Homo sapiens: one gene and its partner. The protein of the gene in region 1 interacts with the protein of each later gene in a pairwise test. Each region holds a gene or a part of one and is shown in the gene's direction. Other genes may lie near its edges.

The links. Proteins that work in one complex are often made in the same cells at the same time.
Region 2: the proteins of DUSP29 (region 1) and SRSF11 interact in binary tests that used the Homo sapiens proteins (3 or more experiments, as listed by UniProt).

What each region holds. Positions count from the first base shown.
Region 1 is NC_000010.11:75,056,628-75,063,649, reverse strand, and holds part of DUSP29 (dual specificity phosphatase 29), read left to right. Parts: intron 1-5,101; 5' UTR 5,102-5,135; coding exon 5,136-5,335; intron 5,336-7,022. UniProt on the Homo sapiens protein: Dual specificity phosphatase able to dephosphorylate phosphotyrosine, phosphoserine and phosphothreonine residues within the same substrate, with a preference for phosphotyrosine as a substrate. Involved in the modulation of intracellular signaling cascades.
Region 2 is NC_000001.11:70,216,365-70,224,386, forward strand, and holds the start of SRSF11 (serine/arginine-rich splicing factor 11), read left to right. Parts: upstream 1-5,015; 5' UTR 5,016-5,272; coding exon 5,273-5,475; exon of another isoform or gene 5,476-6,401; coding exon of another isoform or gene 6,402-6,434; intron 6,435-8,022. UniProt on the Homo sapiens protein: May function in pre-mRNA splicing.

The sequences.
Region 1 (7,022 bases):
AAGGATGTGTAAGCGAGCAGAGTCCCACTCTGGGCAACTGGAGCTCCAACACACGGGCCAGCCTCCAGGAGACTGTGCAGGACATATTTCAAAAGTGGTCCACTCAGGGTTGAGGAAGTGGGGATGTTTATCCACCAACTCCTGCCTCTAATTGGTGACAACTTCTGGGGGATGTTAACTCCACATACTGCAGGCCTGACCAGCACAAGGACTAGAAAATGCCCTCAAGCAGGAAAACAGGCATCTGAGGTAGGAAGGCTTTTATGTATATAAAGAACTGTCCACTTCTGCTGCAGTGACTTGAGCTGAGGAGGCACCTGTAGGCACCTGTAGTAGATGCTATCCTTGTAACAGGGCAAGAATAGCATCGATTACAGGGGCTTACATTTAAAAATCAATAGATTTCTCACAACAATCTATGAGGATCATAAAAATACCAGAAAATCTGGGCTTGCATTCCCACATGGGACAGCAAGCTGCTGCCCCCTTAATGGAGGCATATGCTCCCTGATGTGCCACACTCCCCACCACTCCCTAATGTCTCTTGCCTGAGGCCAACAGCCAGGTTTTTGTTTGTTTACTTTTTAACACCCAACCTACTTCCTTCCTCTATGTTATCTGCCTGGCCCCTCCCTGAAGGAGCCTGAGTTTGTCACCTTTTAAGGAGGAGACAGGCTGCCATTGCATGTAGGCCAAGTCGTCTCGGAGACAGCATTTGATTTCCTGGGACCAAATCTTTAAATATGAAGCTGTAACAGGAACCTGGGGGCCTCTCTTGACAGCCTGCCCAGCTCTCATTATGACATTTAGCCTGTGATTGATATTGTGTGTGTCATTGAGACCTTGGCAGTTAATCTCTGGGTCGAATCTATGGAAACCAAACAGAACAGATTTGTCTTCCCTTCCATGTTGGCTGTGATCTGGGAAACAGATGCTCCTGGCCTCTCTGAGAATTAGAGAGTTGGGAGCCATGCAGAGAGGGTGCACACAGGCCGCCTTCAGGATTTGGAAAGATTACAGGTCTGTGGTTTCTGGACGGTTCCACACTTTGTTCTCTTTCCCCATCAAATCTGCGTGCTGGAGGATAATAGATCCCAGGGCTCACTCTGCGTGCCAAGCTCCTCGGGGTAGACCGCACCACTTCCTCCTTTGTCTGGAAATCCAGCCGAGGCTTTCAGCACAGAGATGGAGACGGGGATGGTTCCCTCCACAGTGTAATGAAGGAAGAATGGCCTCACCAAGGGTGAGGTCAGCTTCAGTGATCAAAGGAGGCAGACGGAGGTTTCAGAACGGAATTGACTCTAGCGTCTCCCGAAAATCACCTCTTCTGAAGCTTCCATTAACCGCAGGCAGGGTTCAAGATGGCCTAAACCACCTTTAGGTGTATGGTGCCCAGCTTCTACTCACTTCGAACAAGAAGAGTGGGTGCCATGGACGAGCTGAGCTTCACACCTTTAGACACTGTGGGCCTGAAGCAAGGAGGGCTATAACTACGTATGCTCTTAGGGGACTGAAAGGTCTGGGCTCGTTTCTGTGAGAAAGATTTCTGGCCACTCCTTAAAATAATTTCTTCCTTCCTGACTGGAAACACAGCAGGCAGGCCCCAGAATAGAGTTTGGGCCTGAATGACCACCCGTGGGGGAGGGCAGCCCACCCTGCGCCTGCAGTCCCCTCACCTTCTCCCTCCTCCAAATCAGCCTGGAGGCTCAGTCCTGCCTTAGCAGCTCTTGCTGAGCCCCTTGCACAGGCCTCACAGCCCTTAATCATTCCTTCACCCCTCAGTCACTCATTCACTCATTCCATTCATTCACTAAGCCACTTCCTCATCCAACCCATATCTCCTGAGCACCTCTTACGTGCCAGACACCAAGGCTACAGAGAGAAGCCACACTCAGGAGCCCCGAAGCAAGGTCCTCTCTCCTCCCAGCCTGCAGCTGCATTCTGGGCCAAAGACCGGGCCTCCCACCCCACTGGGACAGCGGGAGGCATTTTGAATGAGCACCCTCACTACCTTTCCCTTGACTCCGCAGCACCCTGGCTCTCTAGCCACATCTCAGACAATTATTATCAAACTTTACTAAGCGTCAGACTCACTTCGGAGCTCATTGAGATACAGATGCCTGCGCCCCTACGAGGGTGCAGCCCGGATATCTGTATTTTTGGTTAGTGCCAGGTGACTCTGACAGACGTGGTCTTCAGACCACACTTTGAGAGACTTCACAGGAGGGTCCCCTTTGCTGCCTATTGCCCTCTCCACACTTCACCAGGAAGCAGGAAGTTGTTGGAGGAAGTCACAAACCCTGGCTTCCCACAATCCCTACAGACACTCATGGCTAGCTAGTGATCCTTTAAGTCATCTGCTATGGACTTGGGAGAATCCAATTCCCCAAAGCAGTGGTCTCAACCCTTTCCTTTTAAATTTCTATCATGGAGAATTTCAAACACACCTGAAGAGAAACAGCAACTGGCCAGGTGTGATGGCTCACACCTGTAATCCCAACACTTTGGGAAGCTGAGGTGGGAGGATCACTTGAGCTCAGGAGTTCGAGACCAGCTTGGCCAACATAGCGAGACCTCATCTCTATTTTAAAAAAGGAAAAAAGAGAAACAACAACTACCTTATAACCATCATCCAGCCCCAATCACCATCACTCATAGCCAGCCCATCTCATTCACACCTACATCAATACCTTGCCCCAACATTATATTATTTATATTTTCCAACTATATTATTTTTGAAGCAAATATTTCAGTATGTTTTTCTAAAAGATAAGGCCCTGTGGTATAACGTAACTGTCCTCGGAATCTCCAGCAAGTCGGCTGATAGATATAGACCTCTTTGGTGAGATGATTCCCGCCATGGTGGTGTGCTCTTCTATTCGAAGGCATATGATGTCTGACCATCTCTTCTTATTCATACGTGGCTGGCAGTTTATGCTCAGTCTCTGGATGCAGCAACTCATCAGGTGGTGTAAAATGGTGCTTCCTTCTTTATTCATTATCTGGAATACTTCTATAAAAGAACATTTCCCGTATCAACCCAGTAGTATATAGTTTGTAAAAGAGAGAAGCAATACATGCAGATTCTTCTCCTTTATCTATCCATCTTCAAAATAAGGAGCTGGTTCCCAAACATCTTCCAACCGTGCATAATAAGTTTTGGGTTTTTTTTTTTTTTTTTATAAGGTCTCACTGTGTTGCCCAGGAGAGCAGTGATATGATCTTGGCTCACTATAGCCTCAGCCTCCTGGGCTCCAGTGGTCCTCCCACCTCAGCCTCAGCCTCCTGAGTAGCTGGGACTACAGGCATGCACCACCACACCCAGCTAATTTTTGCATTTTTTTGTAGAGATGGGTTTTGTCATGTTGCTCAGGCTGGTCTTGAACTCCTGGGCTCATGCAATCTGCCCACCTCAGCCTCCCAGAGTGCTGGGATTACAGGCATAAGCCACTGCTCCCGGACTGTTTTCAGTATTATTATTATTATTTTGAGATGGAGTTTCACTCTTGTTGCCCAGGCTGGAGTGCAGTGGTGCGATCTCAGCTCACTGCAACCTCTGCCTCCTAGGTTCAAGCGATTCTCCTGCCTCAGCCTCCCAAGTAGCTGGGATTACAGGCACCCGCCACTACACCCGGCTAATTTTTTGTATTTTTAGTAGAGATGGGGTTTCGCCATGTTAGGCAGTCTGGTCTTGAACTCCTGACCTCAGGTGATCTGCCCGCCTCGGCCTCCCAAAGTGCTGGGATTACAGGCATGAGCCACCGCGCCTGGCCTTCAGTATTATTATGACCTAAGTGTTTGATGTGTTTTGATCCACTGGAATTATTTTTATTTTTCATGTTCAAATTGTTCCAGTTTTGATAAGTGGAAGCTTCTTCAAGTTGTATTCTGAGTCCCTTTGACATGTTCCTAATGGTCTTTGAAGCCATGAACCCTTTCCTACATTCTCTGCATCCCCGGCCTGCCCCTCCTCACACTGCACCTCCCATCTCCCTCCCCCTGACACTAAGACCCTGTGCTACAGACAGCCTCAATTCATGATCCTCCTTATCTGTAAAATGGGGCTAATGATAGGGTATTAGGATAACCCTATCTCAGTGTTGTTAAGATTAAATGGGCTTACAATCATCAAGCACTTGGAATAGTGTCTGGCACACAATAGGTGTTATATAAGTATTTGTCAAATAAATAAACAAATAGCATTCACCTCCATGGTTCTCAGTCTTCCCACCTTTTCCTCCTTCTCTCCAGTCTCCTTTCCCAGGCTGACCATAGGTGCATCATTTACTCAGCTCAGGAAACAATCAATGTCCAATTCCACTGCAAATTCCTCTCCTTGGGGACAATGGAAAGTCCTCTCCCACATTCCACTGGCAGAGCCTAACAAGCTCTCCAAATGCACATTTCAGTCTCGAGGCACAGCTTTCTATCTTGGGGCATCTCTTCCAATCCCCTTGGTAAGTTAACACAGTGATGGCCAGGCTCCCAGTGTGAGAGTGTGAGCATTGCCTTCAGCTCTTCTGACAGGTTAACCCTCATGCAGCCAGGTTTCCTCCCCTCTCAAGGCTTCTGAAGTCCTGCTGATGTGCGTGTGGCCCAGACCCAGGCCCGGGCAGGTATGGCCTTGGCGATGTACTCTTTCCACTGGCTGACGGCTCCCTGCAGACACTGAGAGGGCCACAGGCCTGGAATGTCAGGAATCTTCTGGGCCTTCCTATTTTGGGTCCCAAATGGCCCAAACCAGTAGGTTTCAGTCAGATAAAGGAAAAAGTAGGAACCAAAGGAGTAAAGTCTAAAGAAAGGTGGGAAGGAACTGGCTGCTTGCAGGATTTCTTAGCTCCAGAGCCCGCCTTGGCCCACGTCCAAGGACCCCAGCTCTCCTTCTCTAGAAAGATTGGAACATTGGGGAAGTGTCATTTAACTGCCATCATGGCCTTCCTTGTTTACCTGTGTGGCCTGGGAAGAGGAAGCCGGGGCATAGCAGGTTGGGGAAACTCTTTCCAAATTTTAAGATAAGCTTATTCCCACCTCTTTTTGTAAAGCCTATTCCCTGCCTCAGTGTCCCCTGCTAACCCCCATCCTGCTTCTCTCTCATAACCAGCTGCAGAAAGGAGAGAAAATCCCTTGGCTCTAAAATGACATCTGGAGAAGTGAAGACAAGCCTCAAGAATGCCTACTCATCTGCCAAGAGGCTGTCGCCGAAGATGGAGGAGGAAGGGGAGGAGGAGGACTACTGCACCCCTGGAGCCTTTGAGCTGGAGCGGCTCTTCTGGAAGGGCAGTCCCCAGTACACCCACGTCAACGAGGTCTGGCCCAAGCTCTACATTGGCGATGAGTAAGTGCCCAGGCCCAGGCTCGCTTGGGAGCAGGCAGCAGCCCCTCCCCAGGCCACGCCCTGCGCCACCTCCTAGCCATGGGCTTTGGAATTTGTAGTCGTTCTGTGAGAACTCAATTAGTTAGGGCTGGGCTTGCCTTCACATTACAGAAAACCTAAACAAAGTCTTAGGCAAGATAGAGGTTTATTTCTCTCTCACATATAAGTGCAGAGGGAGGTGGGCTGGGGCTGGCACGGCCACTGCAGGGTCATCAGGGACTCAGACTCCTGTGTTTCTGCGCCACTGTCCTGGGGACGTGGCTTCTTCCCTCCAGGTGCTGCAGGGTCCCAGATTGCCGCCAGGACCCCAGCCATCAACTCTAGGACCCAGACAGCAGGAGGGTGGAGGGAAAGAAAGAGCAGAAGGGCATCTTCCGAAAGCAAAGTCCCATCCCAGACTTCCCCTGCCCCTAGCTGCAAGGGAGCCTGGGAAATGTAGTCTTTTATTTTAGCTAGCTATAATACCCTCAAGAATAAAATCAGTTCTTAGGTGGATGGTGCAGGAACACATCAATATATGCCTGGAAGTATGGGAGCCTAAATTTAGGTCACTGTCACCTCCTTTAGATTTTTATAACCACCATTCCCCACTCCCTACACAACTGAGATGCACCTACTGTAAATAATATTAATAATGATAACGACTATCCTTTCTTGAACACTGTATGCCAGGCATTGTGCTAAGCATCCTGCATGCATGATCTCATTTTACTCTCCTGATAACCCAGTGATAGAGGCTAATTACTCCCATTATAAAGATAGGGAAACTGAGGCACAGAGCAGTTAAATAACTGGCCCAAGTCCCACAGCTCAGTCAGTGGCAGAGAGCTGGGATTAAAATGCAGCTCTGCCCAACCCAGAGGCTTGTTCTTAACTGCTCCTCCCTCCACTCTCCCGGACTCCAGCCATGTTCCATCTCACCAAGGAGCAGATGCAGATGCTGTAGGACCCCTCCATATATTATTGTATTTATTTTTTTTCTTTTTCTTTTTTTTTCGAGACAGTCTCACCCTGTCACCCACGTTGAAGTGCAGGTTGGAGTGGTGTGACCTCGGCTCACTGCAACCTCTGCCTCCTGGGTTCAAGCAATCCTCTGTCTCAGCTTCCCAAGTAGCTGGGATTACAGGCACCTGCCTCCACACCTGGCTAATTTTTTATTTTTAGTAGAAACAGGGTTTCACCATGTTGGCCAGGCTGGTCTCCAACTCCTGACCTCAGTTGATCTGCCCACATCAGCCTCCCAAAGTGCCGGGATTAAAGGTGTGAGCCACCGTGCCCGGCCTATATGTGATTTTAATACATATCTTGCTGCTTAATACCTGGAGATAATCGTCTAGCCATAGGAAGATCCAGGGTAAGCATCCCTTGCCTTTCGTCTTTCTTTTTTTAAATTGAAAAAGTTACAAATATGACATGCTTAATTATACTAGGTTAAATGAGGTAGAGGGTTATAAAGACAAACTGCATAATCTCCCTTTGTCTCCTCTTAATTCTACCCCTGACTAACCAGTGTTAAATTTACTTGCATACTTCTACTACCTTGTGTGGGCTATTGCCAACATAAGGAAACATATACACACATATAAAGGGTTTACTTTTTTTTTTTTTTGAGATGGAGTCTCCCTCTGTCACCCAGGCTGGAGTGCAG
Region 2 (8,022 bases), on another chromosome or scaffold:
CAAAAGCCTATCAGAAATCATGCACTTTTCTATAATGTGACTTTATAGGCCAAATGATAGGTTATTTAACTTTTTTTTTTTTTTTTGAGATAAGGTCTCACTCTGTCACCCAGACTAGAGTACAGTGTCACGATCTCAGCTCACTGCAGCTTTGACCTCCCAGGCTCAGGTGATCCTCCACTTCAGCCTCCCAAGTAATTGGGACCACAGGTGCACACCACTACACCCAGCTAACTTTTTTGTATTTTTTGTAGAGATGGGGTTTCTTTGCGTTGCCAGGCTGGTCTCAAACAACTGGGCTCAAGCAATCCACCCACCTCTGCCTCCCAAACTGCTGGGATTACAGGGATGAGCCACCATACCCAGTTGCATTAACTCATAATAAAATTGATAATAATGATCATTTATATATAACTAGAAGCTTTCCCTTACTTACATCCAAAGATGAGCCAATTGAACCTTCTCTGTGCATACTTCCTTCACTTTGCTTTCCACATGACAAGATTTCTAAGTCTCTCTCTGAAGTATAAACTGGAATGCATTCACTTCACAAAGAGTGGACTTCTTTTCTTGAAAGCTTCAAACTTGTTCTTATCCTTAGGGTCTTTCTAATTTGTTATTTCCTCTGTCTGGAATACTCTTCCTCCAGAAATTCAAATGTCTTGCTTCTTCCTTTTAGTAAGGTCTCAGCAGATAACACTTTTTCCGCCATCCCCTGTCCTATTTCATTTCATCACAACACATTAGTCCTTTCATCTTTGTGGGGTTTTTTGTGTTTTTTTTGTTGTTGTTTTTTGTTTTTTGTTTTTTTGAGATGGCGTTTCGCTCTTGTTGCCCAGGCTGGAGTGCAGTGGTGCAATCTCAGCTCACTGCAACCTCCGCCTCCCAGGTTCAAGCAATTCTCCTGCCTCAGCCTTCCAAGTAGCTGGGATTACAGGCATGTGCCACCATGCTCGGCTAATTTTGTATTTTTAGTAGAGGCAGGGTTTCTCCATGTTGGTCAGGTTGGTCTCAACTCCCGACCTCAGGTGTTCCGCCTGCCTTGGCCTGCCGAAGTACTTGGATTACAGACATGAGCCACCGCGCCTGGCTGTGTTGTTTTTTTATTGAAAGTCTGCCATACTAGACCTGAAGTTTTATGTTATCAGGGACATTCACTTCCTTTTCCCTACTCTATTTCCAGCAGCTGGGAAAATCCTTGGAACAGATTTACGTACATAATATTTGAAGAAATTTGTGAGTTTTTTGACTGCCTCTCAATGATATTGTAGATACAGTGAATAAAACAGGCATGAATCCTGTCTCCAGATTCTATATTTTCTATAGTCTTGTTTAATTGTGAGCCTAAATAAATCTGAAGTGATTTAAAACTGTCATAGATTGGTTATATTTATTTGCTTTAATATATCTGTCATTCGTCTTCAGGTATATGTCTTATTCCTATGTAAAACAGACATTAACATAATTATTTAATCTATTAGACCTACAAGAATCTTCAAAATTATGATTCAACTCTTCATTTGACTGAAAAACTGACACAGGTTCTTAGAAGTGAAGTGAAATTTTCTCAAATCACATGCTTGATGACAGGGGTGGGTTTTTTTTGTTTGTTTTTTGTGTGTGTTTTTTGTTTTTTGTTTTTTGAGACGGAGTCTTGCTCTGTTGCCCAGGCTGGAGTGCAGGGACGCGATCTCGGTTCACGCCATTCTCCCGCCTCAGCCTCCCGAGTAGCTGGCACTACAGGCGTCTGCTACCACACCCAGCTAATTTTGTTTTTGTATTTTCAGTAGAGATGGGGTTTCACCATGTTAGCCAGGATGGTCTTGATCTCCTGACCTCGTGATCCGCCCGCCTTGGCCTCCCAAAGTGCTGGGATTACAGGCATGAGCCACTGTACCTGGCCAACAGGGCTGGTATTTTAAGCCAGCCTTCTAACTTTAAATTCAGTAATTTTTTGTTGTTGTTGTTAGCTGCTAAATGATGTGAAAATAAAATATTTTAAAATCCTCTTCAGTTGCATAAACTTTTTGCCACTTAGTTTCTCTATAGCAAAGTATCATCTATTTGTTCAGTAAGTTATTGTACATAAATTGGCTTCTGGTGGTTTAAAGGATTTTATTACAACTACCTTTTTCTTTGGTTTGAATTTGTAGTTTTAATTATGAAATGTGTCAAACATACAGAAAAATGTAGAGTCATATAAAAGATTTATGTGTACCCATCACAGAGAATAAATAAGTGTTAACATTTCAGGAAAAAAAGAAAAAGGCATGAACCCTGACCTTCTGTTATTTGTCCTTTTATCATCAAATATTTTAGCATGCGTGGCATATAGTAGGCACTCACAATAAATGTTAAACTATTAAGTATCTGTAACTGGCAGTTACATATGTCTGATTCAAAATGAGAAAATTAATTACCATTCTTTGTATTCACAGATACTTATTTATGAGTGACGTGCAGTTAGTTATACAATCAGCCTCCATAACCATGTGTTCCACATACTTGGGTTTAACCAACCCCCATCAAAAATATTCAAAAAATAAAAAATAATGACATTAAAAATAAAAGGTTTTAGAAATACAGTATAAAAGCTATTTACATAGCATTTACATTGTATTCAGTATTAAAGTTGAGTATCCCTAATCCAAACCAAAATCCAAAATGCTCCAAAATCTGAAACTTTCTGAGCACTAACTGGCACAAGGTAAATGCTCATTGGAGCATTTCAGATTTTAAATGTTAGGATTAGGGATGCTAAATCAGTGAATATAATGCAGATATTCCAAAATCTTTTTTAAAAATCCAAAATCCAAAACACTTATGGTCCCAAGCATTTTAGATAAGGGTTACTCAAGAGTATGAGGGTATGTGCTTACATTATATGCAAATACAGTTGTACCAGTCCTGAGGTGAGTATTCATGGGGAATTGATACCAGGACCCCAGAGGATATCAAAATACACAGATGCTCAAATTCTTTATGTAAAATAGGATAGCGTTTGTATATAATCTGTGCACATCCTCCCAAATATTTTAAATCATCTCTATACTAATAATAATACAATGTAAATGCTGTGTAAATAGTTGTTAGACAAGAAATAAAAAGTCTGTACATGTTTAGACCATCAATTTTTTTCCAAATATTTTCAGTCCCAGGTTGGTTGAATCCACATACATGGAACCCATGGATACAGATCAAATGCTTTATTACACAACACCATTTTACATAGGGGATTTGAGCATCCTCTGGTTCTGGTATTTGTGGGAGGGTCCTGGAACCAATCCCCCACAGATACTGAGGGACAGCTATATGCTTTTCTTTAAAATTCTGAAAAGTCTTGGCTCTAGCTAATGTTAGTTGATTTCTATGAAGGCCATAATTTGTAATTTTGCTGAGGCTCACATTCAGTCAACCCATCCATTTTCTGTATAAGCACTAGTGAAAGTCACTTAGCCAGTTGGCTCTACACCCAAATCTCAATAACCTTGTGCTCTAATCTCTCACATATTGCATCTTGACTGCATTGTGCCAAGAGGTATTCACTAATGTAGATACTCTGTAAGGCTTCAAGTTTGTTTGTTTGTTTTTACCTCCAAAACATCTAAAACTTTTACCTCTAAAAACATTCAAGGTCAAGTGAATTATTTAGTGAACTGTCTTAAATGCCATTGTCATTAAGGTATATTTGTGCGTGTGTCCAGCACATTCATTGGGACTGACTGTGTGACAGACATTGTGCCAGGTTCTGGACTGACCCAGGAAGCTCACAACTTTGAGTGATACATGTCAATAATAAATACATGTATCTTCTGTTACTTAGCAGAAAAGAGGAAGCCCTAACAGCTTGCAGAAGTCATAGCAGTGAGGGAAGGAATGCTCTACAGAAGATGACAGATAAGATGAGTGATGTTATTAATAACTTGTGTATCGGCACAGAGACATTATGGTTTTTGTCATGTTTGGGGCACTACAAGTCACTGGACTACACACTGGATGCAGTTGAGAGAATAGTTCAGATGAGGTTGAAAACAAAAGCAAGGATTTTTTTAATAGTCAAAAGCTTCAAAATTATTTTAAGCAAGAATATGTATGTGAAACAAGTTTTTCTTGAGAAATTGCAGTATTTTCTTTAGAAATATATACTTGAATATATTTAAGTACTATAAACTGTGTTTCCAAAGTCAGCTATTGTGGAATTGGCTGGGTGCAGTGGCTCACGCGCCTGTAATCCCAGAACTTTGGGAGGCCAAGGCGGGTGGATCACCAGAGGTCAGGAGTTGGAGACCAGCCTGGCCAACATGGTGAAACCCCATGTCTACTAAAAATACAAAACTTAGCCTGGCGTCGTGGCAGGCGCCTGTAATCCCAGCTACTCCCGAGGCCTAGGTAGGAGAATGGCTTGAACAGGGGAAGTGGAGGTTGCAGCGAGCCAAGATGGTGCCACTGCACTCCAGCCTGGGCGACAGGGCGACTCTGTCTCAAAAAAAAAAGTCATCCATTGTGAATGAATGTACAAAACGCTTATTAATAAGTGTAATATTAAAATATATCTTTTCTGAAAGTTTTAGTGACAAAACAAATTAGTTACAGATTTAATGTTACCAAAATTCATGTACATTGAAAATTTCGGGACATTTTATACTGGTGGTGGTGGGGTGGCATCTTAGCTTGGGTTTAAATATCATTAGTAATCGGATAGCTCTGTAGATGATTATCAGTATATAAAGACATCGTGAGCAGTATTTAATAAGAAGAGTTGCTGAAGTGACTTTTGCAGGAGGATGAATGCTTTTTTTAAAAAAAAAGTTTATACGTGCCTCTTCGCTCTTCCAAAAAAAAAAGAGAGAAGAAAAAGAAGAATAAAACGAGAGACGAAGGTGGATAACACCTTTCTCTAGACCCCGGTGCCTCTCATTTCTCGGGCTGCAGGCGACGGCTGCTGGGCCTGCGCGGGGTGGAGCCGACGCTGACGCGCCCTGCGCCGCAAAGCATTGTGGGAGCTCGGGCCCGCTAGTGTCGTGGTTGGAGGCGAGGTGGGGCGGCCGTTTGTTTTCTCGTGGTCTCGAGCTCGCGCGCTCTCATCCCCTCCCCCGCGGCGTGCGGCGGGGCGGAGAAACGGCGGCGGCGGCGGCGGCATCGGCAGCAGTAGCAGAGGCTGTAGCATCGGACACCCTCCTCTCTCCCGCAATCCGGTTCCTCTTCCCCCTCCTTCTCACTGTTTGTTGTGTGTTTGATGTGTTAAAGCAGGAGCGAGAACCCGAGCAGCGCCATGAGCAACACTACCGTCGTCCCCAGCACTGCAGGTCCGGGCCCCAGCGGCGGGCCCGGTGGCGGAGGTGGTGGTGGCGGCGGAGGCGGCGGCACCGAGGTAATCCAGGTGACTAATGTCTCCCCGAGCGCTAGCTCTGAGCAGATGCGGACTCTCTTCGGTTTCCTAGGCAAGATCGACGAACTGCGCCTCTTCCCGCCGGAGTGAGTATCGTCCACCATCACTGTTCCTGCTAACGCCGCCTCAGCCTGGGCCTAACACACACAATTTCCTTAGGCCCCTGTCGCTGCTTCCCCGGGCCAGGCTGCTTGAGTGGCTGGTGGCTGGTGGATTTACTTAAGACGGTTGTGTTCCAGGCCTACAAAAAAATGCAGAGAGGCAGGGCCAGGGCTTTTTGGAATTAGGAAACACTGGCTGTTATTCTCGGGAAATTTTTTTTTTCCGCCTTAAATTGTGCCAACGTGGTCGTTTGGCTTTGGGGACTTAACGCAAGACTAACCGCAGTCTGTACGTCGTATATAGGTTAAATCCCTTTTTTAAAAAACTGAGTATTTGTTCTTTGCGTTCTTGGAAGAAAGGTAACAAAATTATTCATGCCTGTGTTAATTTGGTGTTAAACTTTGTAGGTTGTTCACTTATTGTTATTGCTGTTATGTGGTTCTGGCCCAGCAATATAATTCAAAGATCATATTCTTTTTGACAGACGCTTAGTTTAGTGTGAGCCTGATTACTTAATTTGTATAATGTCAAAAAACGGGTTATAAACCAGAGATTTTCCTTTGTTTGAATAATATACAGATTTGTGATATTTCACAGTTGTTCTTGAGAAGGATTTTTATAAATGTTGAAATTTGAATTAGAGTGTATGACTTTTTATCCTTTTTGTCTCACTTTTATTTTGAAAATTATTTCTATCGCAAGAATATTAAGTGGATGAATTGTAAAGAAAAAATAGTTCAAAGAAGCTAAGAAGTAAGATAAAGTGTACTACTAAAACAGACAATTGGAATAATAATAATAGTCTTGTGCTTTTTGGAAGACTTATTGGTGGAGAAGTGACAATTCAAATGTCATTATCAGTAAATATCATATATTGAGAATTTTATGATGTCACTTAAATACTAAACAGGAAATTGGAATCCTCTAAGAATCTACTGTTATGGTACGTGTAACCATTAACTTTCTGCTCAATAAAATAATTGACAAAAGTTTATCATAATGAGATATTTGTTAAGTATTAGCATATTTCATCACTTTCCACTTAAAATACTTTCACAAGATTATTGGTGTTTTCAAATTGGTATGTTTCTAATTTTTAGGGAAATGTACATGTGGAGAGAGGATTTACTTAGTTTGCATGACGTGGAGTTCTGGGAACAAACACGTAAATCTTTATTCCTGTTATTTTGACAGATACTTGATTTGGTAATGAAAGACAAATAGCTTTCATAACATGAACATACAAAAATAGATGCTTTGCTGTTGTTCAGTTTTCTCAAGACTTACTGTTTTAAGCTTGTAAAATTAATGAACAGTAAAATAGCAGAAAATAGTGATACATTGGATGATTTTAATAGTTTTATTAGTGAGATATTTGAGGTATTCGAATTACTACAATTCTTTCCAATCCTACAAGTTAAAAATTTTGTTATGGTTGCTGACTTTTAAATGCTGTTTATTCTCTGAAGGCAGTTTTATGATGCATTTAGAAAAAAGGTAAGAGAGATGTAGGCATTATACTGGTTCATCTTTTACCTAATGCATGACCAGTATACTAGAGGAAGTTGTGATGGACCAGAGTCTTTTTGTTTTGTAATCAAATGAATAGTTCCTTCATAACCAGGACAGCTAGTGTGTGCTTGAGAATGTCTCCCTCAACTATATGATCTGGGATATTCTGCATTAAAAGGACTCCCTTCCCAGTATTGGGAGAAAGAGAGATAAATTGACACATTTTTACTCTGACTCCTTCATTTATCTTCCCACATACAAGATCATTTTGTCTTTTAAAATGTACAAGGTTACAATAAGTTAAATGTTATTAGTGGCCTTCTACATTTGATCAGTAATGTAGATGGCTACTTTTATTTACTTGATGTTGCATTTTGTTTTTTTAACTATAAGTTTCAATACACTAATCTGACTGGCACAAGTTGCATATAGTTCCCAGTGGTCCACAGGGTTCATCATTCCAAAAATATTTATTCATAACATTGAATGGCTCAGATTACATAAAATTCTATCTGTTGTGAACAGGTCACCTGATTGTAACTATTATCTACACAGTTGGCCTTCTTCATCTCTGGGTTCCACATCCATGGATTCAGCCCACTGTGAATTGAAAATATAAGGAGAGAACGTCTGTACTGAACATGTACAGACTTTTTTCTTGTCATTCCCTAAACAGTACAGTATAGCAACTATTTACATTGTATTAGGTATTATAAGTAATCACGAGATTTAAAGTATGCAAGAGGATGTGCACAGGTAATATGCCATGATTTTATTTTTCCTCCACCTCTTCCCCCTCCCTGCATCATGTTATATAAGAGACTTGAGCATCTGTGGATTTTGTTATCTGCAGGGAGTCCTGAAACCATGGATACTGAGGGAAAACTATATGATTTCCCCCAAGAAGGCAGTGACATGCACCTGTAACTCTTTTTCCCCTAGACATATCTGTGACATGCTTAACTACTTTTATTTTTCCGATGTCACCTTAATCAGAGAAAACTTCCCAGACCACCCTA